Linked DNA regions of Homo sapiens: region 2 is linked to region 1. A link means that fine-mapping ties the variant in region 1 to the expression of a gene that starts in the linked region. Tissue or cell type: whole blood. Region 1 holds a variant in brackets; the other region holds the start of a gene. All regions are shown on one strand. Distances are from middle to middle. Region 1 has its middle 29 kb from the start of ZNF195. Region 2 holds the start of ZNF195 (zinc finger protein 195).

Region 1 (16,478 bases):
TCAGGGTCGCCCTGCTGCTACCCCTAGGCCAGTGCCCCTTCTGAAGTGCCCCAGGCTGGCACCCCTATACTTAGATCTCTTCAACCTCCTCATGAAAACCTTCTTGCCCATCACCCCAGCATTCCCCGGACTGTGCTAAATGAGCAGCTGACCACACGTCAAATCAATTTTCAGAGTTTGCCTTTGGTTTAATATTCATGGCTTATCCAAAAGATCTTGTCACCATAGCTAGATGAAAAAAATGACAAGGCTCTGGAGAAGCAGAACCACAAGATGGAGGATACCTGGGTCCCAGGTTCATGAGGAGAGGAGCTGCCTGCTCCACAGACTGGCACGTGAGTGGGAATGAAACTTTTGCTGCGTTTAGACCATTACCTTTCTTCACTCTGTCACATAGTCTACCCACGCTAAACAGAACTTGACCTCCACCAGACCGTTTACATCAAGACCTGTATGTGCAGTGCAGTGGCCTGAGCCTCCAATCCATGCCCCACCTATCAAACTGGCCTTGCCATATTCCTACTCTGAGAGTGGTATTCTGGGGACAGAAGCTCAGTGCATAGAATTGATGAATGCGAGATCCTTCAGGCGCTTTGCACTTTGAAGTCTATCCATCCTAGCACATTCCAAGTACAAAGAAGACACTTCAGCAGTACAACCTGGCCTACACTCAGTTCAATTCCTTCTTCAAAAACCTAGGCCCGGCCAGGTGTGGTGGCTCACATGTGTAATCCCAACAATTTGGGAGGCTGAGGTGGGTGGATCACCTGAGGTCAGGAGTTCGAGACCAGCCTGGCCAACATGATGAAATCCCGTCTCTTCTAAAAATACAAAAATTAGCTGGGCTTTGTGGTGGGTGCCTCAAATCCCTGCTACTCCGGACGCTGAGGCAGGAGAATCACTTGAACCCGGGAGGCGAGGTTGCAGTGAGCTGAGACTGCACCAAGGCCCTCCAGCCTGGGCGACAGAGTGAGACACTGTCTCAAAAAATAAAGAAAGAAATAAAAATAAATTGAGGAAGGATTGAGCATGCAAAATAGAATCAGCCTTTGACCCTGAATACCCTGCAGTGAGAATTCCCCTGTGGTTCTCAGGCTTCTGTAATTCCAGCAAATACACTCTTCCTTCAGGTTCACTAAAATGCAGATATTGTGAGATAATGCTCATTTCTCACAGCTTGCTTGAATAATAATAATGATCATTATAGTAATTTACAACTTAATAGTCAACACTGCCTTTTTAACCCAGTCTGTGAGACTGAATCGTAAACGTGACATTCTTTGAAGCTCTCAATTAATATACCAGACTGCATAAACTCTAATAACTTACCTTTCCATGGAAAGAGAATATGTGGGTATTCTCTTTGAAGACAAATGGTGGAGAGTAGACTCTCATCAAAGACCCTCTGGCAGTAATGAGTTGCATTCGGGAAGGTTCCAGAAGGTTCTGTGGAAGGCTGCAGTTTGGGATTGGTTCTCAGGTGTCTGTCTAACTGCTTTCTAAGGATGAAGACTCCTGGTTCGTGCTTTAGCTACACCCACAGGAGCAACAGACTAAGACATTCCTCCACACCATAACAGACCCAGGCAGTGCAGAGCCATGTGGGTCTTATCTGTCTTGCTGTCCACAGTCTGGTTTTATCTTAGACCCAGCCTGGTGCAATTCATGTTGTGTATTGGCACTCCACTTAAGTTTCCTGTTTGTAAAAAGCCCCTTTCATTTGGTGATTCCTAGGGCTTTAGGGGAACTTTCTGGAAACGTGGAAGAAGGAAATAAAGGTTGTTTTGCTGAGGATGGGTTACATTGGGCGTGGGACCCAAATGAGTGGTTTGAGCAAAAAGTAGCCTCCACGCTGGACTAATGCTTGGCAACATTATGGGAAAATTTGGGGAAGCTGGGAGAGGAGGGGGCAGAGTTTCTTTCCCAGCCAGCCAGGGGGTCCAGGCAATTTTGGTCCTAGAACATCTCTCTGTGCATTCCCAAGTAATTGCAAGGCTTCTTCTTGTCATCGTCTGAGACTTGGATTCCCCAAGCATCCTTCTTTTCCTGGAGCCTCTGAGTCCTCTATTCCTGAGGCCTTTCTTCAGCCCTCCCAATAGCCCTGCCATGATTTCATTGCAGGGCTGTGACCGTCTATGACAAGCCAGCATCTTTCTTTCAAGAGACCTCTGGACCTGCAGCACCAACTCTTCATGAAGCTGGGCGGCACGCACTCTCCGTTCAGGGCCTGGTAGGCCTCCCATCCTCAGCTGCCTTCTCTCCTGCTTGCCAATGCCCTGTCCTCTCCCCTTCTCACTGCAGACCTGGGAACCCACTCATCCAGGGGTTGGCAAACTAAGGCTACAGGCCAGTCTCCTGCTTTTGTAAATCAAGTTCCATTGGAACACAACACACTCATTAACTTCTGAGTTGTCTACAGCTGCCTTTGAGCTACAACAGCAGAATCGTGTTTTGCAACAGAGAACCTGTGGCCCGCAAAGCCTGAAGTATTTACTCTCTGGCCCTTTAAGAAATGTTTGTGGACCCCTGCGCTGTCTTACTCTCCTGCCAGTGGGTTCCCAGGCCTGTGGCAGGATCTGTGGACCTGTGTGTCCCCTGGGGTGTCTCACGGGGCTAAGGAGGGGACCTTAGTGCAGGTCCACACACCCTGAGGTGTGCCCCTGGGTAAGCTGGAGTGGTGTGGGAGGGTGTCCCTGCACCCTCATCTTGAGTCCAGGGGATGATAAGACAGTAAGTCGCGTGGAGAAAAGGAATGAGTCAGTCTTGTTTGCTGTTGTAACCTTAGCACCCAGCAACAATATTAGAGAAAGCAAGCCCAGGCCTCAGATGGCAGGGGTGGCCTGGTGCTGCTGATGTGGCTGGGCACCCCAACCTTTGGGAGCCTGCAGGCCTTGCCATGGCAGGAGATGCCCGTCCTGGGTCCCGGGCCTGCTCTGTGGCCTCTCACAGGCTTTTTTCCTGCTCTTTCATCTCAGAACCTGAGGACCCAGACACGGAGCGGTCGGCCTTCATGGAGCGGGATGCTGGGAGCGGGCTGGTGATGCGCCTCCGCGAGCGGCCAGCCCTGCTGGTCAGCAGCACAGGCTGGACAGGTCTGCACGACCCCTAGAACACTTGGGCTTGGTGTGACGGGCACCTGGCCAACCTGTGTTCTCCTCACCCCTGCCAGTCCTGCATGCCCCCACCCCGCCACAGTCTCAATGAGAAGGGGAGGGCGTGTGAGCTGGAAGAGGGGTGTCTAGAAACAGGCCCCTGACATTCAATTCTCTTCTCATAGAGGACGAAGACTTCTCCATCTGCTGGCAGCTTTAGAAAGTAGGTGTGTAGCTGCGGTGAGGATCTATGGGCTTGTCGGGGGCCGCTGAGCTGTGAGCTGCTTGCCTGGCCTGCAGCGTGTTGCTGTCCCGGGCCACTGGGTGGGGCAGCCTGGGGACAGCGGGGGTGGTGGAGGTGGGCCGCCCTGAATCCCCAGTTGGGTCATTCAGTGACCAGGCCCTCAGGCTGAAATGCCCCCTCCAGGAGAGTATCTCACAGAGGCTGGTGGCCTCCCCACCAGAGCAGTGCTCTTTCTCCACCTGAACAGGTGACTCTGGCTATTGTTTATTTAAAACTTTTTTTCTGAATGGGCACGGTGGCTCACACCTGTAATCCTAGAACTCTGGGAGGCCAAGGCAGGCAGATCACCTGAGGTCAGGAGTTCGAGGCCAACATGGCAAAACCTGTCTCTACTAAAAATACAAAAATTAGCTGGGTATGGTGGTGGGCGCCTGTAATCCCAGCTACTTGGGAGGCTGATGCACGAGAATTACTTGAACCCGGGAGGCAGAGGTTGCAGTGATCTGAGATCACGCCATTGCATTCCAGCCTGGGTGACAGAGCAAGAGTCTGTCAGGAAAAAAAAAAAAGAAATTCTATCAGAAATTCCATGTAGAATTGTTTCTTTTTTTAAACACAGAGTTTGAACAACTGACTCTTGATGGACACAACCTTCCTTCTCTCGTCTGTGTGATAACAGGTACCGCCTAGGACCCTGGGTGTCTGATTGGTTGGGGGATGGCGGAGGGGGAGGGGCACGCAGCCTTTACCCTGTGCTTCCCACGATCTTGTCTCCTTAATCTTCACTGCAGCTCTCTGCCATAGGGTCTTATACTGCTTGACATGGGGGAAACTGAGGCTCAGAGGATTTCACAGCAGGGCAGGGAGCCCAGATTTGAATCTGTAGATACCAAACTTTCTACTTTTTCAGTAGTTTCCAAGCATCTTTTTTTTGTTGTTGTTACATCATTGGTGTCTTTTTTCTTTTTTTTTTTTGAGACAGAGTCTCTGTCGCCCAGGCTGGGGTGCACTGGTGTGATCTGGGCTCACTGCAACCTCCGCCTCTCACATTCAAGCAATTCTCATGCCTTAGCCTCCCGAGTAGCTGGGACTACAGGGGCCCACCACACCCAGCTAATTTTTGTATTTTTAGTACAAACAGGGTTTCATCATGTTGGCCAGGCTGGTCTTGAACTCCTGACCTCAGGTGATCCACCCACCTTGGCCTCCCAATATGCTCGAATTATAGGCACGAACCACTGTGCCTGGCCATGTCATTGGTGCCTTAACCAAGCCTCTTTTAATTTTTCAAACGGAAGAACCCCTGTCCCACAGTTACTGCTGCTGAGCCCTTTCAAGGTGACTCTGAGGACGGAGAAAAGCGGAAGTGGTGTGGGAAGAGGCGGGGTCTGGGCCAGCTGCTGGTCCTGCTCTCCTCCCTCCTCTGGCCACTAGGCTCCCAGGAGTGGTTTGGAGCCCACGCCATGTGCTCTGGGGGCTGTGGCAGGGCAGGGGCGGTTTGGAACCTGCGCCATGTGCTCTGGGGGCTGTGGCAGGGCAGGGGGAGTCCTCGTGTCCCCTGTGCACAACACAGACAGAAGGCTGGGTCCACCCAGTGGGCGGTCGACTGCCAGGCCAGTGCTTACCCCGCCATGTTTGCAGCCCGAGGCCAGCTGGCTGCAAATGCAGGGCTGTGCGTCAGGGGTCAGAGTGCACACACCCCTGCAGGTCTAGGGGCTCCTGCGTTGCTTCTGGAAGGGCCTGGATGGGACCTGACTGGAGCGGCCGAGGGGTGGAGCTTCTGGGAAAGGGATCCCTCCTCGGGGGGAGTGTCTTGGGCCTGAGGCCAATTGGCAGGGACAGAGACGAGTCCATGGCAGTATCTGCTCTTCTCTGTGAAGGCAAAGGGCCTCCGAGGGAGTATTACAGCCGCCTCATCCACCAGAAGCATTTCCAGCACATCCAGGTCTGCACCCCTTGGCTGGAGGCCGAGGACTACCCCCGCTTCTAGGTGAGAGGCCAGCAGGAGGCTCAGGGAGGAGGCGGGGCCTTAAGCAGGGGGAACAGGGGTGGGCGGGATGTACTTTTTCTGAAAATGTGGCTCTGGAGGCCACTTGGGGACAGGACCTGGGCTCTGGCTGAACTCCCGGGAGGAGGCTACTTCCTGGTGTGCCAGCCCCTCCCTGCCAGGTGGCCCCAGAGGCCCTTTACCAAGGGGTTTGAGGAGGCCACGTCCTTTCAGCCTTCCGCGCCCTCCATTCAGTCCTCTTCCTTCCTGCAGGAGGGCTGGGCCTGGGGTTGGGGCCACTGTTGCCCAGGTGTGGGAGGGCAGTGGCTTTGGGAGGTACAGGGACGATGTGTGAAACAGCGTCGCCTCTCCCAGTGAGATGGTTCTCCTTTGCCTCCGTCTCTTTCCCCGTTGACTTCTCCAAGTGGGGAGTCGTGGCTTGGTCCTGATGCGTCTCTAGAGCCACATCTTCCAGCTTCGAGTGAGCAGAGCAGTTGGAGGCTGAGGGCCTTTTCCTGGCAGGACTCTCCAGTTAGTCTTTGTTTTAGACAGTCTCGCTCCGTTGCCTAGGCTGGAGTGCACGATCTCAGTTCATGCAACCTCCGCCTCCTGGGTTCAAGCGATTCTCCCACCTCAGCCTCCCGAGTAGATTACGGGATTACAGGAGCCCGCCACAACACCTGGTTTATTTTTGTATTTTTAGTAGAAACAGGGTTTCACCGTGTTGGCCAGGCTGGTCTTGAACTCCTGACTTCAAGTGATCCTCCTGCCTTGGCCTCCCTAAGTGCTGGGATTCCAGGCGTGACCCATCACGCCTGGCCCCAGCTAGTCTTTAGAAATGTTAAGCTGTTTCACTTTATTTTCACACTGACAGCTGGTTTGTAGTGGGTGTGCTGTGGTTTTTTATTATTATTATTATTATTATTATTATTATTTTGAGACAGAGTTTCGCTCTTGTAGCCCAGGCTGGGGTGCAATGGCACGATCTTGGCTCACTGCAACCTCCGCCTTCCCAGGTTCAAGCAATTCTCCTGCCTCAGCCTCCTGAGTAGCTGGGATTACAGGCACCTGCCACGATGCTTCGCTAATTTTGTATTTTTTTTAGTAGAGATGGGGTTTCACCATGTTGGCCAGGCTGGTCTTGAACTCCTGACCTCAGGTGTTCCACCCACCTTGGCCTCACAAAATGCTGGGCTTACATGCGGGAGGTGAACCTGGGAGGTGGAGGTTGCAGTGAGCTGAGATTGTGCCACTGCACTCCAGCCTGGGTGACGGAGTGAGACTCTGTCTCAAAACAAAACAAAACAACAACAAAAAAACCAAATTGTGGTTACGTAGAAAAAGTGTCAACTTACATTTTCAGATGTCCCAGCCAGGCCATGTGGCTGCTTGGCCAGCTTAAGCCACTTGTGCTTGGGGCTGTCGGGGGACTTATCCGATTTTCACTCCCCTCGGGGGATGTTGCCTCACTGTGCTGGGAGGATTTGTGTTCCCAGGGCAGAGACCAGCGCTCTGACCGCACCCCTCTTGCCCAGCAGGGTCGGTGGATCTGGGTGTCTGTCTGCACACGTCCTGCAGTGGCCTGGACCTGCCCATGAAGGTGGTGGACATGTTCGGGTGCTGTTTGCCTGTGTGTGCCGTGAACTTCAAGTGGCAGGAGCAGAACCCGAATCTTTCTGGGGATAGCTTCACAGATCCACCGCTGAGGAGGAAACAGTGCAGAGCGAGCTGCCCACAGTGAGGCCCTGCTCCTGGGTCAGTCCAGCACACACTGGAGGCCACGAGGAGGAGCCCTGCGGTTACTGTGTCTGGGCTGAGCCTCACTGAAGTAGTTGCTTCCATTTAGAGCTCATGTTATATTTAGGTTGATACAAAAGTAATCACGGTTTTTGCCATTAAAGATGGCAATTACTTTTGCACCAACCTAATATGAAAAAAAAGCATCTTAAATACTGGAACTCCACTCGGGGCTTTTGCTCCTAGAGTAGAATTGGCGGGAATTGCCTGCAGGCTTACATGGTTTTCTTTGTTTCTTTCTCTCCCACCATGTCCTGTTTGGCCAAGCTCACGTGCTGGGTTTGAATGAGTTAAATGAGTGTCGTGCTGTGGCCTCACTGCACCCAGCGTAGACGGGCATTTGGAAGGGCGGTGTTAGAGGAGATTCTAGAAGCAGTAGCCCCAGCACAAGCTGAGCCCTTGGCCCCTGCTCAGGAGCCGGCTCCTGGATGGGAGTCAGGGATGTGAGCCCCTCGTGTGAGCTGAGCTCAGGGAATGTCGGGATCAAACCTGGTGCCCTAGAAAAGTCATCTTTTATGTGCTGAGCCAGTCCCCAGGGTGTTGCCTTTACTTGTTCCATGGCCATGGAATTAAGCAAAACATGCAAAAATAATTCTTCAGTCCTTGAAGAGCATCCAGCACAGAAGGTAGAAACCCTCCTTAAGGCTCCCTCCTCAAATCGGTTTGGCCATTTCGATGTGCACCCCCCCAGGCCTTTATACCCTTCAGATGCCAAATCTAAGAACCAGCTCCCAGAAACCACACCCCCTGTTCCAACCCCCAGCCTGGCTTGAGCATGGGTTGTTGGGGGGAGCCCAGGTGGGCACCCCAGGGGTCTGGTGTCTTCTCCAGGCAGCTCTCAGGCTCCCTTGGTTCTCTCTGCAGTTTACATGAGCTGGTGAAACATGAAGAAAATGGCCTGGTCTTTGAGGACTCAGAGGAACTGGCAGCTCAGCTGCAGGTAGCCACATCTGCCACCACGCCAGGGTGGGGAGGGTTCTGGAGGCTGGC[A/G]CCGAGCCACGCTCCCTGATCCCTGCTTCCCACAGCCAGGGTGGGACCATGTGGGGTCTGGCGGAAAAGCTAGGGAGGGAGCAGAGGTCACAGAGTCCGGCCCACTCTGCTGTCCCGTTTCGGTACAGTAAGCTCGGGAAAGTTAGGACACACCCCCACCTGCCCTCTGGATTTATGGAGCTGACATTCCACAAATGATGCTGGAGCCGGGTGGGCCGGGCTGCAGTTTAGGAAGTGATCAGGGTCAGGTAGGTGCGTGGGCAAAGGGAGCTTCTGGGACCAGCCTTGAAAGATGGGTGGAATTCTGCAAAGGTTACTTGTTTCTTATTGCTAAAAGTAATACATCATTCTTGCCAACAGAATGATTGGCAGGATTTTCAGTAAAGGTCCAGGTCAGAAGTCATTTAGACTGGGTCCCCCAGTCTCTGTCAGAACCATGGTACTCTGTTGTGGTGTGAAAGTAGCCACAGATCATCTGTCGATTAAGGGGTGTGGCTTTGTTCGAATAAAACTTTATTTACAAACACAGGCTGTGGGCTGGATTTGGCCTGCAGGCTGTAGTTTGTGATCCTTGATTCAGACAGTTTAGCAAGGCTGAAAAGAACACCGACACCCCCTTGTTACCCACAGATGGGTGGGACTTGGCCGGAGGCCAAGAGGAGGGTGCTCGCAGGGGAACATACAGCATGTAGAGGCCAGGAGGTGCTCCAGGGCACCAAGTGTGGGAAAGTGGGACATACGGGGAAGTTTCCAGAAAGCATGATGTCAAGTTGGAGGCAGAGCGCTGCTGGGGCATGAAGAGTCTCGAGTCCAAGTGAGGGAGTTAGGAACTTGGGAGGGGTTGTTGTTGGGTAGGGGACCTGGGGTCAGCCAGGTGGTGACATGGGATGGGGTGGGGACAGGCAATGAGGTAAGCTCTGCTCTTTATTTTTTTGCAGGTGCTTTTCTCAAACTTTCCTGATCCTGCGGGCAAGCTAAACCAGTTCCGGAAGAACCTGCGGGAGTCGCAGCAGCTCCGATGGGATTAGAGCTGGGTGCAGACTGTGCTCCCTTTGGTTATGGACACATAACTCCTGGGCCAGAGGCTAAAACCCCGGGACCCCTGCTGTCCTTCCCACAGCTTCTTCTCAGAGTCTCAGGGCAAATCCTTTCGAGCAGCGCCTCCCAGTGGCCAGAAGCTGAAATGATGGCAGTAGTGCCACCTGGTGAATGAATTGGTTCTGTGACCCGGGAAGCTGTGCTTGGCTCTGATTTCTTTTCTGGAGGCTCGGAAACACTTCCTCTCTTCTTCTGTTCTTCACGCCCCATGCCCCTGCTAGCGTATTACTGTTCTGTGACTTCCCTGTGACCTCTGCAGTACTCCTCATCCTGCGTTTGGTCTCCAGGTGTCACCTTTCTGCCGTGTTCCTAACATTTTGATTCCTGTCTTGAAAAAAGCACCTGCTGCACCATAAGCCCAGGGATGTGGCAGCTGCAGCGGGCTTGGCTTTGTGAAGAACCGAGTGTGTCCAGGGATGTGGCAGCTGCAGCGGGCTTGGCTTTGTGAAGAACCGAGTGTGTCCAGGGATGTGGCAGCTGCAGTGGGCTTGGCTTTGTGAGGAATCGAGTGTGTCCACCGATGTGGCAGCTGCAGCGGGCTTGGCTTTGTGAAGAACCGAGTGTGTCCACCGATGTGACAGCTGCAGCGGGCTTGGCTTTGTGAAGAACCGAGTGTGTCCACCGATGTGGCAGCTGCAGCGGGCTTGGCTTTGTGAGGAACCGAGTGTGTCCAGGGATGTGGCAGCTGCAGCGGGCTTGGCTTTGTGAGGAACCGAGTGTGTCCAGGGATGTGGCAGCTGCAGCGGGCTTGGCTTTGTGAAGAACCGAGTGTGTCCAGGGATGTGGCAGCTGCAGCGGGCTTGGCTTTGTGAAGAACCGAGTGTGTCCAGGGATGTGGCAGCTGCAGTGGGCTTGGCTTTGTGAGGAATCGAGTGTGTCCACCGATGTGGCAGCTGCAGCGGGCTTGGCTTTGTGAAGAACCGAGTGTGTCCACCGATGTGGCAGCTGCAGCGGGCTTGGCTTTGTGAGGAACCGAGTGTGTCCAGGGATGTGGCAGCTGCAGTGGGCTTGGCTTTGTGAGGAACCGAGTGTGTCCAGGGATGTGGCAGCTGCAGCGGGCTTGGCTTTGTGAGGAACCGAGTGTGTCCACCGATGTGGCAGCTGCAGCGGGCTTGGCTTTGTGAGGAACCGAGTGTGTCCACAGATGTGGCAGCTGCAGCGGGCTTGGCTTTGTGAGGAACCGAGTGTGTCCACGTTGGGGGGAACATCATACTTGATACACACGTTTTTATTTGCACAAAGAAAATGCTATTTTTGGAGCCAGAGTTTTCATGTCTGATTGATGGCGATTTTCTTAAGAACCAGAACTGCTGGCAGAAAGGGAGCACCCACAAGCTTAGATAGCCGATGTCTTATCAGAGGGCAGTTTGTGGTTCCTGATTTGGAAATTAACATTCTCCAAACATTCCAGTCCAATGAAAGTTTTATCCGCTTTCCCATATAAAAACTCTTCCCACGAGAGTGACTTGATTCTCACAATCCCGTTGGAGTCGTGTGTGAGTCCTACAGTGTGAGGTTCAGCATTGCCATCTCCAAGTGCTCTTCGTAGGGAAACAGTTTCTGGTCATGACGAGGTTCCACTTCCCATCTGATCCCGGCCCGGCCTGGAAACAGAGGACATGTGTTTGAAGATGGCAGTGTTTGGGGACAGGACATGAGCGTATTGTGTGGGGCTGCTAGGACAGGCCTGGCGGGGTGGGGGCGTGTACAAGTCAGTTTACTTGGTTCACAGGTTCTCAGGCCCACCCAGGTGCCTAGAATTGGCCTCCAGGATGGGACCAGAAATCTGGTTTTGCATAGAAATGGCTAGCAGCAGGCACCGTGCCGCTGTCCAGTCTCTGCCCGCGTCTGCCCAGCACTTGGCACAGCGGGACAGACGCAGAGATCTGAACCCACACTTACCTGGCTGCTCAGTCAACTCACTCTTCACAAAGCTTAGAAAGCGGCCAGGCACAGTGGTTCACGCCTGTAATCCCAACACTTTGGGAGGCCGGCCAAGGCGGGTGGATCACTTGAGATCAGGAGTTCGAGACCAGCCTGGCCAACATGGTGAAACCCCATCTCTACAAAAATACAAAAATTAGGCAGGCACAATGGCGGGTGCCTGTAATCCCAGCTACTTGGGAGGCTGAGGCAGGAGAATTGCTTGAACCCAGGAGGCAGAGGTTGCAGTGAGCAGAGATTGCGCCACTGCACTCGAGCCTGAGTGACAGAGTGAGACTCCATCTCAAAAAAAAAAAACAAAATCACACACACACACACACACACACACACACACACACACACACAGCTTAGAAGGGGCTGGTGTTCTCATAAGCACAGATGTCTGAAGAGCCGTTAGCCAGAATGATTCTTTTCTTTTTTTTTTTTTTTTTGAGATACGATCTTGTTCTGTCACTCAGGCTGGAGTGCAGTGGCACAGTCATTGCTCACTACAGCCTCGACTCCTGGGCTCTAGCAATCCTCCCACTTCCTGAGTAGCTGGGATGACAGGTGCATGCCACCATGCTAGTAATTTTTTTATTTTGTAGAGATGGGGTCCTGAATGCATGGCCTCAAGTGATGCTCCTGCCTCAGACTCTTTTATTATTTTTTTTTTAGACAGAGTTTTACTCTGTTCCCAAGGCTGGAGTGCAGTGGTGCAATCTCAGCTCACTGCAATGCATCCCAGGTTCAAGTGATTCTCCTGCCTCAGTCTCCCGAGTAGCTGGGATTATAGGCGTGCACCGCCACGCGTGGCTAATTTTTGTGTTTTTAGTAGAGATGGGGTTTCACCGTGTTGGCCAGGCTGGTCTTGAACTCTTGACCTCAAGTGATCCGCTCACCTCAGCCTCCCAAATCCTCTGCCTCTTACAGTGTTGGGATTACAGGCGTGAGACACTGTGACACGGGATGATTTTCAATCACAGTTTTTTGTTACGAGTGGAAAATGTGTATTTATAAAAATAAAGTAGTACAGACATGAACGTGTAGAAGTCTCTATAATCCTGCCATCCAAGGATGGCACCTGTTAATGTGTATATCAGGGATGTCCAATCTTTTGGCCTCCCTGCACCACATTGGAAGAAGAAGAATCGCCTTGGGCCACACATAAAATACACTAATGCTCGCAATAGCTGATGAGCTAAAAGAAAAAAAAATCACAAAAAAACCTCGTACTGTTTTAAGAAAGTTTACAGATTTGTGTTGGGCCACAGATTGGACGAGCCTGCTACATATATATTCTAGGTTTTCCCCAATAGGTATACTTATGTGAAAATGATTATTGTGATACTTTTTTTTTGAGATGAAGTCTTGCTATGTTGCTCAAGGGGGCCACAAACTCCTGGGCTTAAGCCATCCTCCTGCCTCAGCCTCCTGAGTAGTTGGGAATATAGGTACTCATAAACATGTGTGGGTGATTATTATTATTTTTTAAACAAAAATGGGGCTGGGCGCAGTAGCTCACGCCTGTAATCCTAACACTTTGGGAGGCTGAGGCAGCAGATCGCTTGAGGTCAGGAGTTCAAGACCAGCCTGGCCAACATGGCGACACCTCGACTCTACAAAAAATACAAACATTAGCCAGGTGTGGTAGCACGCACCTGTAGTCCCAGCTACTCAGGAGGCTGAGATGGGAGGATAGCTTGAACCTGGGAGGTGGGAGGTTGCAGTGGGCCGTGGCACCACTGCACTCCAGCCTGGGCAATACAAAGCCAGACTGTCTCCAAAAAAAAAAAAAAAAAAAAAAAAAAAAAAGGTGGGTGGGGGCTTATACTATGTGTTCTGCTTGGCACTGTTTTTTTCACTTCAAAGATATTGCAGTTATTTTTTCACATAAGTATCTGAAGAAAGACTTCCTTTTTTTTTTTTTTTTTTTGCCTTTTTGAGACAGGGTCTTGCTCTGTTGCCCAGGCTAGAGTGCAGTGGTGAGATCAGGGCTCACTGCAGCCTCCACCTCCTGGGCTCAAGCTATCCTCCCACCTCAGCCTCCCGAGTAGCTGGGACTACAGGTGTGCGCAACCATGCCCGGCTAGTTTCTGAATGTTTTGTGGAGATGGGGTCCCACTATGTTGCCCAGGTTGGTCTTGAAATCGTGGTGTCAAGAAGTCCCCCTGCCTTAGCCTCCTAAAGTGCTGGGTTGACAGGCCTGAGCCCCGCGCCCGGCCAGCCTCCTGTGCGAGGTTGTGCAGGACTTTGTCGTGGAACCCAGTATGCCTTCGTGTGCTGGCTTGTTTGTTGGCTCTGTAGTTAACGCGCTGCCCCACGTGGACAGGCATTGGACCCACGTCTCTGTGTGCAGGCAGAGGCTGCTGCGCGTGCATCTGTGCACATGGCTGCCAGGAGGGGCTGTGCTCAGGGTGATCTGGGGCAAAGGCTGGTGGCAATGGGGGGCTTGGGTGTAGTGTGGAGGCACGAGAGCCAGGTGGCCGAGCTGCAGTCTGTGGGAGCTCAGGGGTTGCTTGGCCTCTGTGTGTCCTAGTGTCTTTGTCGGTGAGATGGGACAATGATAGCACACTCTCACAGGTGCTGGGGGCTGACAAATGTCAGGTCTGAGGACAGTGGCTGGCCCACTACGGGGACAATTCCCCTTCTCTATAGTCACCCTGCTCGTCTTCCATCAACTGGGTGCTCAGGACAGTGGCGTGGTGGATCCGCCTGTACAGCCTGTGCTCCAGCGTCCTGCAGGCCACAGCTGTGTCCAGCCCTGACCCCGACTGCCCCTCCCACCACCTCCATTTTATAGATGAGGAAACCGACGCCCAAGGGCTTAGGGAACCCTGCTCTGAAGCACACAGTAGGGCTGCTGGGCTCAGATCCTCCCTCCCTGTGCTGAGCTGCCCTCCTCCTGCCGCAAGCTCCCACGCCCCAGGCCCACCCTGCTCACCGGCCTCTGCCCTAGTTCCCCGCATGGTGTGGGAGTGTGGGGCATCCTAGCTTTTCCTCGGCCCCCAGTTCTTTCACTTCCACTGGAGTCCCGCAGGGACAGCTCGGGGACCATGCAGGCCCGGGTGGGCGTGTGGGCTCACATAGCTCGGTGGTGAACAGCTGGCACGTCTCTGGGTTGCGGACGATAAGGGCCACGTAGACTTGAGGAGCCCGCTGGTGCTCCCGGTAGGCAGCCAGCCTCCGCAGGACCGCGACCAGCGACACGATGGATTCTGGGCAATACAGCACGTCTACGGTGAAAGCTTCAGGTTACTGAAAGGGACCAGCGGACAGTTCCAGGTCATGCTGACCTCAGCAGCAGGGCGAGGCCAGAGAGGCAGCAGTCATATGAGACTAGTAGATGCCATTTGACCATTTGGGCCATTAGATGGAAAGGCAATTGCTTGGGTGAAAAAGGAGAACCCTTAGTAGAGAAAGCTGCAAAAGACCGAAGCAAAAGAAAAAAATCTCCAGACTCACTGGTGTTCCTTAAAAAATGAGCTCTGGTTCTCGGCCTATCTAGAGGGCTGTGAATGACACAAAGCCTGACCCTGCCATGAACTTCGTGTTTCAGGTGTCTGCCGATTTGTCTGCTGGCTTGCAGGGGTGGGCCTGTGTCCCTGGCCACCGCTGGACCTGTGGGTTTCAGGGCTGGGACCCAGGACCACAGGCAGAGCTCTGTTCAACCAGAGAGGAGACCGAGTGTGCTGGCAGGGGCGAGGGGTTTTCGGTGGCCCAGCCAAACACCACCTTCTCTCAAGGGCCCTGTCCTCATCCCAGAAGTGGTTGTTTTCCTCCTGTGGTCTCTGAAAGACAGAGGCATGGCTCTGGGACAGAGCCATGTGGTGATGACTGTAATGGGAGTATGCCTGTCTCCAACAAGAGGGCTGTGGCTGGAAGGTCACCTTAAGAGGCACCCCTGTCCTTTGATGTCACCCTGGAGGCCCAGAGTAACTCTTCTGGAAGCCCCATCATGTCCATGCCCGACAGCGTCCATTGTTCCCTTTTCCCAGAGCCCAGAGCTGGGTAGAGCTGCAAGGACACCGCCTGCACAGAGTGCCCGGGGCTGGGCATTGCCTGCTGCAATGACAACATCTGGCTGGATGGCAGAGAGCTGATGGACCGTCGCGACGTCCCAGTCCAGCTGGGCCACTGTCACCCTGGGGCTGTCTAAGTTGGCAGAGATGTCTGCCTCTAATGAGAGGCCATTGAGAAGGACATTCCCTCGGAGCTTCTCGAGGACCTGGCTGTGACAGTCGCTGAAGATGTATGCCTGGAGGCGGCACATCTTGCAGATGGCCAGGCCTGTGAGGCTGGCGCCACTGCCAAGCTCTAGGACAGTCCTGGCGGGAGGAAAGGGGACCATGTCTGTAACTGCACCAGGGTGAGCCTGCCTCGGTGTCCTGCCGTGCGCCCCGAGGTCACCTATGAGAGAAGGCTGCCGGGTTCTCGATGGCCCATTCTGCCAGGTAGAGGGCAGCATCTCATGTGACCAGGCCTGTGATGCCATGGGAGATGATGGCTGTGCTCTCGGAGAGTGTGACTGAGCCTCCCGAGGGCTGCACCAAGAGAGGGCGAGAGAGTCAGTCCAGCAATCAGAAGGCAAGTGGCTTAGAAGACAAGTAGCCATCCACCACATGGCTGAATAAACCATGACAGGACCAATCGCCACTCAGCAATGAGAAGCAGCTAACTGTTGACATGCCAACAGCTTGCACGGGCCTCAAGGGTGTCACGTGGCATGAAAGACACTCATCTCAGGCCACACAGGATTCCATTCATCGAACATTCCTGAGACAACGGAATTCTGGTGATGGAGCACAGGTCAGTGGTGGCCAGGGGCCAGGTGTGGCTATGAAGGGGTGGCTGCCTTGTGATGATTCAATATGCTATGTTTTTCCTTTGTGGTTTTCTGTATCTATGTTTTATCTTATTTTCTTTTGAGCTCTGTCACCCAGGCTGGAGTCAGTGGCACAATCTTGGCTCACTGCAACCTCTGCCTCCTGGGTTCAAGCAATTCTCCTGCCTCAGCTGCCCAAGTAGGTGCAACTACAGGCATGTGCCACCATGTGTGGCTAATTTTTCCACTTTTTTTTGAGACAGAGTTTCCCTCTCGTTGCCCAGGCAGGAGTGCAATGGCGTGATCTTGGCTCACTACAACCTCCACCTCCTGGGTTCAAGAGATTCTCCTGCCTCAGCCTCCCGAGTAGCTGGGATTAGAGGCACCTACTACCACACCCGCTAATTTTTGTATTTTTAGTAAAGACAGAGTTTCACCATGTTGGCCAGGCTGGTCTCAAACTCCTGACCTCAGGTCATCCACCTGCCTCAGCCTCCCAAAGTGCTGGGATTACAGGCATGA
Region 2 (16,478 bases), 30 kb before region 1:
ATGGATAAAGAAAATGTGATATAAATAGACAATAGAATATTACTCAGCCATAAAAAAGGAATGAAATCCTGTCATTCAACCACGTGGATGACCCTGAAGGACATCCTGCTAAATAAACTCAGCCAGGCCCCAAAGACAGAGACTGCACGTTCCCCCTCAGACGTGGAATCTGTCGTGGCTGAACTCACAGGAGCAGAGGACAATGGCAGTTGCCAGGGCCTGGAGTTGGGGAAAATGAGCTGTTGTTCAAAAGGTACAAACTTTCAGTTGTAAGATGAGTAAGTTTGGGGAATCTAATGAGTAGCTTCACGAATACTATTAATAATCTTTTGTATGCTTAAAGTTTGCCAACGGTAGACATTAACTGTTCTCACTACAAGAAAAGGTAATTACGTGAAGTGATAGATTTGTTCCTTGAAGTGATTGCACTAATTATTTCACAACGTATACACATATCAAATTATTACATTGTACACAATATATACACAATTTTTATTTCTAAAATAATCTGTTACACATATGCCCACATAGACACACTGTATATATGTGTGTGTATATATACATGAATGGATAAAGAAAATATGATTTAAATAGACAACAGAATATTACTCCAGCATAAAAAAGAATGAAATCCTATCATTTCAAAAGGATATGTTGATATATTATATATACACACATATATGATATATACACACACATATATACACACATATATACACACATATATACATATGCACACATACATACATATGAATGACAGAGTCCTGATAAGCCTCATACTAAAAAAGAAGAAATTATAAAATGATAATATTATAACTATTACAGTTGGGAGTTAGGGAATATAAAGTTTAAATGACCAACCTCAGCTCATACTAAAAAAAATAAAATAAAATGTTGAAGTAAAATAACATTAGATTATCTCATATTTGGGCAGATGCCTAGTGTTCGGAGAAAACTGCTGAGTATACATTTCTGTAGACTCCCATTTGAAACCTCTGTAGGATACGAAATCATAAAGCAGAAAGCATACAACATCTGTTTACGGGACTTCTGGGATTTCTGAACCAATCACCATCACCACGCCTCTCGCACACTTCAGACATGATGCAAAGGAAATCAAAAAACATTTAACAGAGTTCCTCAAAAACAGGCAGGTACAGGCATGTTCCCAAAAGCAGTGGCGGAGCACGCCATGAGACCACACAGGCCCTTACTCGTCAGGAGGAGGACTCTGATTTTTACTGTAACCTTTATAAAGGAAGATCACTAAACAGGAAGCAGAGTCTATACAAAATTTGAGAGAATGAGACAGAAGACGCTCCTAGGGTACAGCAAGAGAAAGACACCCAGGCTCTCAGAAACCATCTCCACTAGGGCAGAGCTTCTCAAACCACATTTTAAGGTCTGGCTTCCTCCTCGACCTCTGGACCTCTCACCTGGGTTACCTGCTTCGTTCATTCCCACCCACCTGGATGTCCGTCTGCTGCCTCCTGTCTCTTCACATTCCAGGGCTCTTTTCGTTGCTCCAGGCAGGTGATCAGGCCTGGCTTACAGACAGTGAGACCTGTTTTATTAGAAAAAAGTGACATTACTCTTGCTGAAATTCTCCAATTATCAACCTTGTACTGTGCTTAGTAGAGTGAACATTATATAAGATTCTAGAAAATTAATCCCAAAATTATGCTTCCTGACATCACCTTTAGAATATTCAGTAAGTATTTTAAATCTGTGGGTTCTTAGTTTCACCACTCAGTACTGCTGACATAAAAAATTGGTGGTGGAAATTTGACTTTAAGTTGTGGGCAACAATATTTCATGCCACTGAATTTCTGGAATTGTCACTAGAGTGAAAGATACAGATCAGCTGAAAAAAAAGGAAGGTTTATGTCAAGATGAACCACATTTTGAAGATTTTTTTTTTTTTTACATCAACTATTCCCCATGTTTTTCTTAAAAGCAGGGATCTGAAACTCATTCATGCAACGCAGAAACTCCCAAAAAACATTCCGCAGAGGAACGAAAGGAACTCTTTAGGGCATAGGAGGAACTACGTATTGAAGTTATCCTCACCAACGGAGAACAAGTTTCTGTAGTTCTCCAACATCACATCCCTGTACAAATTCTGCTGAGCGAGGTCCAGGCATTTCCACTCCTCCAGGGAGAATTCTATGGCCACATCCCTGAACGTCAACAGAGTCTGAAGAAGAAACAACAACAATAACAAATACTTGATTCGAGGTGAAATGAGCGAGTGAAGAGAACTGGTTCTGACTTACACAAGTGACTGAAATTATACAATAAGGTAATTCTTAGCAGAAGAATACTCTCTAACTCTGAGGAAAGAGAATTGCCTGAGAGCCACATAAGCAGTGTATATACAATACTTTTCTGGTTGATAACAAGTATAACATTAAGGGCATCAACAAAGGCATGTCCATTTTTGAGTGCTACATTTACGTCACATGAATAAGCTGTGTATATTTCGCAGGCAGAAAAGTCATGGTGAGTTAGAAGCTGCCTCTCCAATTTTCATGTGTCCAATAAACTAGTGTGCAGATTTTGCTTCAGGAAATCGGAGGTCAAGGCTGAGTTTCCGAATTTCTAACGCGCTCACCAGTGATGCCAGTCCTTTGGGCCCAAGGACAATATTTTGTCAAAAATCCTGTAAGTGGCAAGCTTGGGTTTATCCCAGTTTTTCTAAACCATAAAGAGAGATGAGATTCTTCATCTTCTAAAGCAAGGCATATGCAAAAAGAATCTAAGAAGCAAAACCTTTCAGATTAAATGTGATTATTTATGCACATTAATTAGTAAATCTCCTCAAGGTACTTAAAAGAGAAAAAAATAAACTCCACAATGGAAAATCTGTCAGGGAGCTCTTTAAACAACTGAATAAAACTAATATCAACTGTAATAGGACAGATTTTTATCACGTGCCAATGCACAGAGAAGGACATATTACTGGTGTGATATTGGCCAAAAGGTCAATTATAATCTGAATCAAATCATACCGAAACCTTAGTGTTATGCAAAGTTCAAGAGACAAATAAATATCTCCCAGGTTCTGACAAATATCTCCCAGGTTCTGACAAATATTTCCCAGGTCCTGACAAATATCTCCCAGGTTCTGACAAATAAATATCTCCCAGGTTCTGACAAATAAATATCTCCTATGTTCTGACAAATATCTCCCAGGTTCTGACAAATATCTCCCAGGTTCTGTAATCTGTTTTCTTTTGTCTTGAGACTGAGTCTCACTCTGTAGCCCAGGCTGGAGTGCAGTGGCGCGATCTCGGCTCACTGCTACCTCTGCCTCCCTGGTTCAGGCAATTCTCGTCCCTCAGCCTCCGGAGTAGATGGAACTACCCACATGTGCCACCACGCTTGGATAATTTTTGTATTTTTTTAGTAGAGATGGGGTTTCACCATGTTGGTCAGGCTGGTCTCGAACTCCTGGCCCCAAGCGATCTGCCCACCTAGGCCTCCCAAAGTGTTGGGATTATAGGCATGAGCCACCATGCCCAGCAGTAATCTCTAATAGTGTATTAAAAGAGTCTTTCTTTAGCATTCTAAAAAGCAAGTGTCTTTTCATTTTTCTCTTTTCCAGAATGCTTTGAGTTATTCTGAGAGATAAATGTCATCTGGTTTAAATGTTTATTTTCTTAGTCCTGTTCTGCATGCAGCTTATGGAGCATCCAGATGAAACCTAAAGAGTGCACATTTCCCTTCTTTGCTGATATCCAAAAACCCACCCCATCCTCAAGAGGAATCCTGGGTATCCACAAGTTCAGTGCCACGAAGTGAACTTTTTAATACTGCAGGTCATAAAGTCATGGTAAGAATTCTTCATGGCATATAAGAAGTCAAGGTGAAGATAACAGAGAGACGGCTTTGGTATATAGAAAACAAATATTTTCAGAGACCCTTCATTATTATAAGAAAAAAAAGTAGTTGAAACAAACTTACTATGGAGAAACACCACAAGTAGAGAAGTAAAGGTTTCCAAATTCTAAACACATGACATTTCAGGAGCAAAAGTGGACACAACCCCTGACCTGAGATGCATTTACCTGAGCACCAGCCATTTCTTTCTCTTTCTCCTGCTTCTCTGGGATTTCCTCTTAGGAAAGATTCTCTGGACAAATCACACCTGCATCGTGAGAATATGCCTTTAAAGGTGTTAGCACAACCCCTTCACCTGCTACCACCACAACCATCAACAGAAAGACCAAGAAATACAGAAAAAGTCCACGCTTTTCTGTTCTTTATAAAAGAGATTCAGGAACAGTAAACTTCTACATGGAGATCAAAATGTGACTTTCTCTCTTCCTGCTCTCAGGTTCCCTCTCCTGCTAAACAACAGCAATTCTGCTTCAGCAATTGGAGTATAAGCTGCACTGAGCTGGCCTCTGAAACCTAGGCAAAGAAGGCCCTGTGACCTCCCTTTGGAACCAAGGCTGAGCTCAACTCGTACAAATGCATCTGAAACCCCCCATCACTGATTCTGGCCACACCTTAGAATCCCATGATGCATGTGACTTAAACAGCACTGGTGCTTCCACCCAAACCAATAGGCAGAATCTGTGAGGGCAAAGGTGAGGGCCTTTTTTTGAGTTGTCCATGTGATTTAATTAGAAGCCAGGCTGAGAACCATTTAGCTAAGCCTTGCTTCTCAAGCTTCAATGTGCATATGAATCTTTTGGTAATTTTGGCCCCACTCTAAGTCATGTGATTCTGAAGATTTCAAAGGGGTTCATGGGTTGGATTTTTTAACAGTTCTGCCATTAATGGTGATGCTGCTCCCCCAAGACTTGTGATCATTAACACTCAGCTAAAGAAAGCAGCCCCAGCACAGTCCCTTACACCCAACCCTCTGACCACAACATAAGTTCTTCTGGTGCAAATGGAGACAGCCAATCTCTATTCTGAAAGATTACATTATTTCCTGGCTCTTTAAAGTTTTCCAGGGCTGGAGAAGGAAGCAATGTCTGAGTCTGTCTGCATTTGGAAAACAATGTGTACACACGTATGAATGCAGTGTTTATTAAGCAGGCACGGGGTGCTCGGATGTATGTGACAGCACTGTGCTGGGCACCTCACGTCATGTGAGTTAATCCTCACCACACCCTGGGTGATGGAACCAAGTGTCCTGCAACTCTCAAGATATAGATGAAGGGACCAGGCTTTGTGGTTCCTCTTCTATTTTCCTATCATTAACGTTTTAAAAGTGTAGTGATAAAAGCTCCAGATAGACCAATGGAAGGGATACAGAGGGGATGAAGTGTAGTGCAAAGGCACTTTCCATTGTTGTGTTTATCTTCACTTTCTTGTGGCTTGTGAAGCAACTATTAGACCCACAGGACTGAGAAAGAGCTTGCTGGATACGATGTCTCTAACAGCGCTGGTGTTAGTAAAAAAGAAAAATTAAGGCTCCAAAATAGAGAGTCCTTTGATCCCATTTATCTGCTTTGGGGTTTCCGAAAATTCTGTGTATCAGTTCCGGAGAGGCAGCAGGAGTCAAACTCTGATTTAACTCTGTAGTTAAACTCCAAACTGATTTAACTCTGTAGCTAAACCCAAAACTCTGATTTAATTCTGTAGTTAACTCTGTCGGAGGAGAGTCCAGGGTGAAGCCAGACCTGGATGAGACTCAGAGAAGGAGAGTCTGGGCATGTCTGGGCAGGGAGAGGGCCCTACGCAGGATTCTGCTCTCTATGCTACTAGAGTATTTACAATTCTGTTTTTCCTAAAACTGCCCCCCACCCCAAAATTTAAATCCCAGGGTTTGTATAATTTTAATCTATTTTGGCCACTTCCTTGTCTATTTTATAACATAAAATAACAAGCAATTTAACCGAAACCTTTAGGATTTTCTAGGACAGATATGGTAGAAGCTAAATATTTATTTTTAGCCGGGCAAAAGCAACAGAAATAATACCACCACCACCTTGTCTGTCTGAATATCCCTTCAATATGACATCAGAACTCACAACAACCACATCAGGAAAATGGCCCAAATGAAGCAGAAGTCCCTTTGACCACTCCCTTCTTCATGCTGACCCCAAGACGCTGAATTCAATGATTTATCCAGTTACTGGAAATGGAAAAGTTTCTGGCTTGCGGGGACCATGGCTGCCTTCTCTGTTTTCCTAATGGCTACACAGGATGGAATCAATTAGTTTATCAGTTTGAATCTCCAGATCTCATTTTTGTTTTTTACTGAAGTACCAGAAAAACTGGAGTAATTCCCATGTGGATACCAATGAGGTTTCTTCTCTGAGGGGAGGAACAAACCCTGGGTGACTCATTTCTCTTATTCTACAACAGAAGCACAGATAGACCGTTTTGTCAGCCTGAGCCCCGTCTGCACAGTGCACTCCTGAATGTCCAAAAGACTCCAGGTGCTGGTGAGAGAGTTCCTGGTGACCCTGCACAGATGCCCTCTATGGCCATGAGATCCATGATAGTTGCTACCTTCTCCCTGTTGCAATCCTCCTTTAGAGTTCAATAACTTCCTATCTAAAGCTAAATTTATTTTATTTGACGAAGTCTAGAAACAGCCCCAGGATAATAACGATTCCATACCCAGGAAGTCCTCCCCAGCTTCCTTCCATCCCAACTCTAACTGCATCTGCCTGTGGGTCCCCAGTGCTCCCGGGCTCTGCAGCTTCTCTCTGTAGAAAGGCTCCTTCCATGGTTGCTGTGAGCAGTCTGGCGCACCCGCAGGGGAGGCTCCTTGGGAAGCACTAGCTAGGCCAGGGGTGTCCGATCTTGGCTTCCCTGGGCCACACATAAAATACACTAACACTAACGATAGCTGATAACTGAAAAAAAAAAAAAATCACAAAAAAGTCTCATAATGTTTTAATAAAGTTTACGAATTTGTGTTGGACCACATTCAAAGCCCAGGCCAGCATGTGGCCCAGGCCTGTGGGTTGGACAAGCTTGAGCCAGGCCTTCGATTGCTTTCTTTTGCAGACTCAGTATTAGCCTTAGCTTGGAATGACTGTTCTTGGGCTTCAACTTCCCAATCAGGGTTATCCACTTAGGTTTAAATAAGAAAATACCCAGTGTTGGAAACATCCAACAAAATCACTGAAACAGTTTACAGAAGAAAAGGAAACTGTAAGCACTTACACTTTCACCTCCACAGAAAAAGCAAAATTATTTATTGCTTTCAGACAATGAACTTGTCATTTAACTATTTCCATAACAAATCATATAGTAAACAATCACATGTGAACACTTTTAGAAGTGCTAAGTTCCATCTCCTACAACTTAGCATTAAGCTCAGACATCTAGAGAACAGGATATAAAACAGAGATACTCATGACAACAAATTCATCCTGCAAAAAGAGCTCATGTTCTGATGAATCTATGCAATTTACCAAGTAATCTACCATAATTTTTTTGTAGAAAATGTAAACATTCTCCACAGCCATCCAAGAAGCATTTTATGTTCCCTGGTAGCATTCCCAAAGCTAAGCCCTGGGATTCTGTTGGAAATCATCTTCCACAAAAGAACAGACCTAAGTAACTTTCTACCCTTAATCACTCTGGAGAAGAAAAAGGTATGTATGACTAGATATTTAACTTTTTTCCTGAAATTGACCTATTTCATGTCCTTTGTAAGTATTTTCTTACCTTTCAAGCTCTACTGATAAAATGTAAATTTACAATTAAAAATCCAACATTGCAGTAAGTGAATAAATTATTTCAAGGAGACACAGAGAGTGGCAGTGCCGACTGGAACACAGACACAGCTAATGACTTGTGTCAAGTCAGGCTATTCTATTCCTTGGGAGATTCTCCCACCTCCATCCTGTTCACCGAAGTGCTCACCGGCCACCCCCGATGATACACTGCACTGTGCCCCGCTGAGTGTCCCAGGTGAATTTTGCTTTACAGGTTTTGCACCATCTCACGGGGTGGAGTTTTTCTTGCTCTTTGAAACATTCTGTCTCCCTTCACAAATCTGAGAGTCCAAAGGGCAGAAATGATTTCGGTCTTTTCCCTCTGACAGGGGCATGTGATTGGCTGATCAGCCATGTGTCTCCAGGGATTGAAAGTTGGGTTGGGTGAAGACAATCTTAATGTCCTAAGTGGTTACCTCTTTAGAGGAAGAGTAGACCAGGAGATTTCTCTCAGCCCAGGGCATCCAGCTGCTCCCTGGAGAGGCCACACTTCATACCTCAGGCTGTCCTCTGAGAAATAACCCAGGGCCTGAAATTCACTAGATGCTCCAGCAGACATGGCCATGGTGGGCATCCTGTGTTATCCCTGGACAATACTGAAACTGAGGAAAAAGTCCAGAGGGTGGCTGAGAGCAAATCACCCTGTCAAGTTTCCAAAGTGGAACCTCAAACCAAAGACATTCTGGTAAGGTGTCTGTGCCTAGGGAAAATAAAAAGGAGGAGAGGCACAAAGACTTTTTACAATAGCGTCAGGGGATGATTCTCTGCTTTCCTGTCACGTGGAATGATTACAAACAGAAAACAAATCTCTTAAAAAGTGCCGTCCAGGCTGGGCGCAGTGGCTCACGACTGTAATCCCAGCACTTTGGGAGGCCAAGGCAGGCGGATCACATGAGGTCAGGAGTTCAAGACCAGCCTGGCCAACATGGTGAAACCCCGTCTCTACTAAAAATACAAAAATTAGCCGGGCGTGGTGGTGCAGGACTGTAATCTCAGCTACTCGGGAGGCTGAGGCAGGAGAATTGATTGAACCCGGGAGGCAGAGGTTGCAGTGAGCCGAGATCGCGCCACTGCACTCCAGCCTGGGGGACAGAGCGAGACTCCATCTCAAAAATAATAATAATTAAATAGCAGGCAATCCGACTGAGGTGGCTCTAGTGCCCTGGGTTCTTAGGTTAAAAAAAAAAATCTAACTCAGATGCGTTTCTTGCAAATGACTATCTTGCAGAAACAAAATTCAGGCTTCGTCAACCACAAACCTCTAATTAACTTCTGATTACAGGACCAGAAAATTTCAGCCTAGATAGCTGAAATCAGGAGATGACGTAACTGTACCGAACTAATGAATGAATGTGGTTTGCTTCCTCATGCACCTGATAAAAGCCTTTCCTTCAAGGCCGGCTGGTGGGACCTCCAAACCCAAAAAACATGGTTGGGTCCTCTGCCATTCATGAATCGCTCTTTGCTCAAATAAAACTCTTTCACATTTTTGCAAGGACTCCCTCGAGAGAAAGGAGGGACTGGGGCCCCCACGGGCTACAGATCATCCTCTTATGCACAAACCACCCACGGAGTCGGGATTCTCCCTTCCTGACTCGGGGAGACGAGGGTCTGCGGGCGAAGAGCTGCCGGGGGGACATGGCTCTGGGCTTGGGCCAAAGCCGCTCTGCAGGGATGCGCCGGGGCGCGCGGGGCCCGGCCGCCATGGTGCAGCTGGAGGGGCCTCGGGTCCGCGGAGCCCGGAACCCACCCGGGCAGCCCGGTTCCTCCCGAGCCGGTACCGCGGGTTCCAGTCCGCCCCTCCCTGTCTCTCAGGAGGCCTGGCCCCTACACTCACCATCTCCTGGCCTCCAGAGAGCCTGGCGTTTCACTTCTGGATCTCCCGGTGCCTGCGGGTCACACGACCTACGGCTAGCAGGGGACACAGAGCCGCGGGGACAGGAAGTGGAGCTCTGTCGGGACAAAGGCCCCGCTAGATCCCGGAAGCCGTCCTCTCCTCTCCAGACATGTGCCTGATTGGACAGTCCCCGCCCCTACTCCTCTGATTGGATAGGGCATCACGCCCCGCCCCCTCAGGCCCTGAGTGACAGGAGCTGTAATCAGACAATGGGCCGAATGAGACAGCAAGGACAGGTGCTGGCCGCGATCTTTTGGAGCGGGGCTTCCTGCCTGCGCTGTCCGGCCCCACCTAGAGGATATTTACATTTCATCTTGTGACTGCGGTTATGTTTATTTATAAATAATAAATATATGTTATTCACCAATGGAAAGAAGAAAATAAAGACAATCATTTTGAATTTTTATATTTTATGGCCTTCCTGGCTTTTGGTCCTTTGAACAGACAGCCTGAAATTTCAAAAAGGATTCAAGCCTCTAAGAATTAAAATGTAAGCCATGTGTGAATCTTAAATTTTCTAGTAGCCACGTTTTAAAATGTACTAAGAAACAGGTGAAGTTGATTGTAATAATTTAACCCAGTATGTAACCATTTTCCTCTATGGTCAATATACAATTGGTAAGGAAGTATATATTTTGGGGTACTAAATCTTTGAAGCTCACTCTGTATTTTACCTTTTCAGCACATTTCAGTTCAGACCAGCTGTATTCCTGTTATTCAATAGCCACACATGATCAATAGCTGCCACACTAAAGTGCAGCTCTGAGGTCTAACCTCCCTTATGTCAGGAAGTGGAGGGTCTGAAAGTCCCTTTTCAGCCAGAGGTGAGGGAACAGCCTCTTGCTACAAACATCTCTCCTCCGGTCGAAGGGTGGACGAGATGGTGATCCTAGAGAGCATAGGGGAAAGCAAAAGAAAATATCCACGGGTAGAGGACTGCTGCCCATCAATAATGGGGCCCTAAGAGGAGAGAACACATCTTCAGATCTGTCCATAGCCTTGACCTCCAACATTTAGATATGGAGGAAATAGACTAGAGGCAGACTTATCTTGCTATTTGGCCTTAGCCCTAATGATCAAGCTGTGATTGTCTGTTTCTTCCCGTGGTTGGGGGGCTGTGTGAGTAAAAGCACCAATCACATATATACATGTGTACATGCATTTCTGTATGACGGAACATTATCTTACAAAAGATCCAACTTTAAATAAGGGGGGAGAATTAGTACCTATAAAGTGCTTTCTTCTTGCAGGTAACTAGGAATCAACCTTTCATTGAATCCTGGCACCCTATCTGCCCTGGGTGCATGTATTAGTTAGCTATTGCATAACAAATCACCGAAAACTTAATAGCTCATGATTGAGTTCATCAGCCATTCACGCTGAACTCAACTGAGCTATTCTTGTCACAACTGGACTGCTTCATGTATGTATGGCCAGCTGCTGGTTGACTAGGTGGCTCTGCTTCTGGGGATGAGATGGCTATCAACAGTGGCACCTTCCTTCTCCCCACCATGGTATGTCATCCTCCAGCTGGCTAATCTCATAAAGATAGCAAGGTTCTGATAGCTTGATCTCATAAAGATAGCAAGGTTCTGAGAAACACAGAAGCATTTAAGACCTTTTGAGCCTAGGCCCAAAACTAGCACAAAAGCTGTCATATTCGCAGTTGATACGGTCTGGCTGTGTCCCCAGCCAAATCTCAACTTGAATTGTATCTCCCAGAATTCCCGTGTGTTGTGGGAGGGACCGGGGAAGGGGGTAATTGAGTCATGTGGGCGGGTCTTTCTCATGCTATTCTCATGTTAGTGAATAAGTCTCACGAGATCTGATGGGTTTATCAGGGGTTTCCACTTTTGCTTTCTCCTCATTTTTCTCTTGCCGCCACCACGAAAGAAGTGCCTTTTGCCTCCCGTCATGATTCTGAGGCCTCCCCAGCCATGTGGAACTGTAAGTCCAATTAAACCTCTTTTTGTTCGCATGTTCAGGAATGTCTTTATCAGCAGTGTGAAAACAAACTAATACAACAGTTTTCTATAGCCAGAGAAAATAGTGCCAGCCAGATGCAAAGTTTGGGAAACACATTCGGCCTCTTGATGGGAGGAGCTGTAAGAGCACACAATAAAGAGCATAGATACAGAGAGTAATGAAGCATTGCTGCTGTTTCTGCAATCAGTATTATTCTACCCTTTCTTGCAGAAGAGGTTTATATTACTGCTCCAAGTCAAGAACCTTGCCCAAAGTCCCACAGCTGCTAAGCAGCTGGGCTGGTACTCAGGATCAGCTCTGCCTGGCTCTGCAGCCCTTACTCCTGCATAGACTGCACTGCTCATACAGCTTTCCAAGGCCTGCAAGTTTCTGGAGAGTAACTCTTCTGCAATAGAGGCAGAATTCCTTTTAGATTTGGACCCATATGGTGCTGTTTACCATTGGGAATAATCAATCACCTCGAGAAATTGCAGAAGCTTCTTGGAAGGACATGGAATAATTTGAGGGAAATGGCTGATAGATGACTTTAGGAAATCAGAGCCCAACAACAGAGGAGCAATTTTAAAACAGAATGTATCCTATATGTCTGTAAATGCTTTCATTCCTTTTTGGTATTTGTAGGCTGTTCATAATTTTCAACACTGACTATAAGTACTGTGACTGAAACAACCTCTTACTCTGAAATCAAGTGACTTAAAGATACATCTGCTGAGAAGACTTTTTTTCTGCAGCAATTTATCCGAACAGCTAAGTACATCTTGGAGGTGTCCGTTGATTTTTAATAAGGAAGAGCTATTTTTCAAGCTCCTATGTGGCAAATCCCATCAGTATGCATGGAAACCAGCTACAGTGAATGCATTCTTTACCCTGAATCAATTGTTCTCACCCCTGCTACATGTAAAATCACCTGGGGGGATGGCATTTAGAATTTCCCAAACCCAAGCTGCCACCGACCAGTAAAATGAGAATCACTGGAGTGGGGCCTGGGCAACATTGTGGCTTAAAGGTCTCCGGGGGATTAGAGTGTGGGCCAGACCCCAAACCACTGCTTTTTTTTTTTTTTTTTTTACTTTTACGTTCAGGGACACAGGTGCAGATTTGTTATATTGGTAAACTCACATCATGGGGGTTTGTTGTACAGATTATTTCATACCCAGGTATTTGTTTTCTGCTATATCCCCAAGACCATGAATCATATCTGGCACATAATAAGCATTTCCTAATATTTGTTCAAAAAGGATTTGGCAGTCTTGGGGGGCAGAAGGGGGGGTGGGGAAAATTTTTAAATAACACAATTTTTTTAAAAGGCACAATGTTCTACAACGTCAAATTCTCTTGTATATTCAGGAAAGTTGAGGGTTTTTTCTAAAACATGCTGACATAATGGGAAATAAGATGCAAAATTTGCATGAATGTTTAAGACAAAGTCTGAGGTTTCCAAGAGATGTTGTGCTGGGGAGGCTGTGTGCTACAAGCTCGCAAAGCTCTGGGAGGACAAAGCATTCATCCTCCCTAGCAGAGGCCGTGAGGTGAGAAGCTCGGTGGAGCCCCCAAGCTTTGGACTTTTAATATAGAGTGTTCAGGTCCTTATAGTTAGGGCTCATGGCACAAGCAGGTCACAGGTCTCTGGCTCCTCTGACCTTTACCCTCCTTCCCAAGGGAAAATGTGACTCTCCAAAGCAAGAAACTTGAGGGCGTGGTTCACCCCAGCCCTGGCATCTGCCCAGAGCCTGAGAAGGAAGGAACAATGATCCTCCAGCTACCTCACAGGGCTGGCACAGGGGGTCACTGCCTTGTGGATTGCCCAGCTGTGTCGGGCAACCTGGACCCTATCTGTGGGGATGTAAAGAGGAAAATACAAAAGTCTCCATGAGGGCACTGGGAAGATAGAGGCAGGAGAAACCTCCAGGCCTTCACTACCCAGCCTTGGACCCATGGTGGAAAGATAACATAGTTGGTGATCTTGTGTGCTTACACTCCAGGTGGCACTGTGGCCTCGTTGTGGCTCTGAAAATGAAGATTTGGAAGGAGTTCATCACAGCTAATGTTTAACAAGACCCTACTGTATGCCAAATCATTCACCCCTTGCAACAACTTAATAAGCTAGGGATTCGTATTAGATATATTTTACAGAAAAGGAAACAGAGACATAAAGAGGTGAATGAACTTGCCCAGATGGCACAGCTAATAAGTGGTGGAGGCAGAACAGAATCTACACAGTGTGGCTCTGGAGCCCACATTCATTGATTCCGCAAGTGTTTATTGAGCACCTGCCATGTACAAGGTCTGTGCGATTAAATAGGGCTATAATTAATAATATAAGCATTATAAACCACTAGCACTTTTTAGAGTTAACATTTTCTTTTTTTTTTTTGCAGGTTTGAGGCACAGAGCTGTATATACAATAACAGTGAAATTGATCCCACTACTAATTATGACAAAAATGATCTTCCACGTAAACAGGTTAGATGTTTTCTAGGTATTATCTCATGAAATCTTGACAGAAACTGAATGAGGAGGGGGCCGGGTGCAGTGGCTCACGCCTGTAATCCCAGCACTTTGGGAGGCCGAGGCGGGGGGATCATGAGGTCAGGAGATCGAGACCATCCTGGCCAACATGGTGAAACCCCGTCTCTACTAAAAATACAAAAAAATATTAGCCAGGCGTGGTGGTGGGTGCCTGTAGTCCCAGCTACTTGGGAGGCTGAGGCAGGAGAATGGCGTCAACCCGGGAGGTGGAGCTTGCAGTGAGCCGAGATTGCGCTACTGCACTCCAGCCTGGGTGACAGAGCGAGACTCCACCTCCAAAAAAAAAAAAAGAAAATGAGGAGGGAAAGTTGATTGTTCTGATTTCACACAGAAGGAAATTGAGGTTAGGAGGGGTAAAGTAATTTTGCATGGCATGAAGTAGAAATTCGAAGTGTAGGGATTTGAACTTGGTCCTGCCCTTTTCTGAAGCCCCCATGCTCTTGACCACTGTGGACTCAAACCTCACCTTGTTTCTCCACTCATTCAACAAATAGATTTGTTTAAATTATCAAATAGGTTGCCACTCATCATGAGCCTCTGTTCCCATTCTACAGGTGGTGAAGCTCCTTATGGTCCTGACCCTACAGTTCCTGTCCCATGACCAGGGCCAGATCACCAAGGAGCTGCAGCAGTTCGTCGTCAGTGGCAGCCCCATGCGAGCACCCGAGGAAGGTGAGTGAGCACAGACAGATGGGTCCTGGTGCCCTGGAGCAGTTCCCGGGTCTCGGCTGCCCCAGGTCTCATAGTGTGGCCATGCTGGGGGAAGCTTAGGTAGTCACAGTACTGGCCTTTTTGGGTGAGTACACTGGTGACATGTTACTGTATTCTTGGGCTAGTACACTGGTGACATGATGCTATATTCTTGGGTGAGTACACTGGTGACATGTTGCTGTATCCTTGGGTGAGTACGCTGGTGACATGTTGCTGTATTCTTGGGTGAGTACACTGGTGACGTGTTGCTGTATTCTTGGGCGTGTACACTGGTGACGTGTTGCTCTATGCTTGGGTGAGTACGCTGGTGACATGTTGCTGTATTCTTGGGTGAGTACGCTGGTGACACGTTGCTGTATGCTTGGGCGCGTACACTGGTGACATGTTGCTGTATGCTTGGATGAGTACGCTGGTGACACGTTGCTGTATTCTTGGGCGTGTACACTGGTGACATGTTGCTGTATTCTTGTGTGAATACGCTGGTGACATATTGCTGTATTCTTGGGCGTGTACACTGGTGACATATTGCTATGTTCTTAGGCAAGTACATTGTTGACATGTTGCTGCATTCTTAGGCAAGTACGTGGGTGATATATTCCTGTATTCTTGGACAAGTACACTGGTGACATGTAGCTGTATTCAGAGGTGAGTACACTGGTGATGTATTGCTGTATTCTAGGGTGAGTACACTGTTGAAATGTTGCTGTATTCTTAGGTGAGTACACTGGTGACATATTGCTATATTCTTGTTCTTCGTGTCTAGCAACTCATACATGTTTACCAGAATATTCCTAAAGGTTCATTTTCACCATCAATTCTACCCAAAACTCGGTTAGCCCTTTTAACAGGCAGATTCAGCTTTTCCTTTGTTTCAGGAAATTTTCTTTTTTTGTGCTTAATCACGGCCTCTCCTCCATCTACCTCTTTTCCTCCCCCTGAAACTCCTATGTTATTTGCACCTGATGTCCTGGGTCTGTTTTCAAATCTTTTCTCTCATGTTTTCAATTTCTTTGTATTCCTGTCAATTCAAGATTTTTCTTCTACTTAATCTTTGAGGCCATTAATTTGAATCTTAATGATCACCTTCAATTCATTTGCAACCGTTTTTCAGTAGGCTTTATTTTTTGGAACAATTTCTGCTTCACAGCAAAATTAAGCAGAAAGTGCAAAGAGCTCCCATAACCACCTGACCCCACACATGCACAGCCTCTCCTACTATCAGCATGCCACACCTACTATCAACATGCCACACCAGAGCAGTACATTGCTTACAATCAATGGGCCCGTGTGGACACATCATAATCACCCCAAGTCCATTGTCCACATTGGAGTTAACATTCCGTGTTGTACATTTTTTTGGATTTTGATAAGTATAATGGGAAGAGGACAGACACTGATCTTCACTGTGTTCTGTGGCTCTTTGTGGTCCAAGTTTTTCTTCAGACCCATCACATTCCAATCTTCTCCCAGACCATGGTCTCCAATGCTGTTACCCAAGTTCTATCCCACCCAGAGTTTCAAGTGAAGCCTAAAACCTTATCCACAACCTTACGACCTCTCTGCCCACTGTGCTGCAGAGCAGAGGCTGAAATGGGTTGGAGTGAAAGTCAGCAGGAGAGGTACTATTTACTCAAGCTACCATCTTCCAAGAACATCCTTCA

The links. PIP is the estimated chance that this variant, and not a neighbour inherited with it, causes the effect.
Region 2: it holds the start of ZNF195, and the variant in region 1 is fine-mapped to the expression of ZNF195 in whole blood (INTERVAL, PIP 0.97).

Annotation. Positions count from the first base shown.
Region 1 is chr11:3,399,638-3,416,115 of GRCh38, forward strand. It overlaps the pseudogene TSSC2 and the pseudogene FAM86GP. Among named protein-coding and RNA genes, the nearest start is that of ZNF195, 29 kb to the left of the region's middle. RefSeq lists a silencer at 1,402-1,696 and enhancers at 4,368-5,202, 5,203-6,036, 6,394-6,907, 6,908-7,419, 9,649-10,149 and 1 more. The variant A/G (reference allele first, on the strand shown) is at 8,111.
Region 2 is chr11:3,369,507-3,385,984 of GRCh38, forward strand. It overlaps ZNF195 (zinc finger protein 195), which reads right to left and starts at 9,640. Exons shown (of 6, transcript NM_001130520.3): 1 at 9,532-9,640; 2 at 2,071-2,197; 3 at 1,469-1,564. The coding sequence starts at 9,534. It also overlaps the pseudogene TSSC2. RefSeq lists enhancers at 9,341-9,904, 9,593-9,887 and a silencer at 9,346-9,415.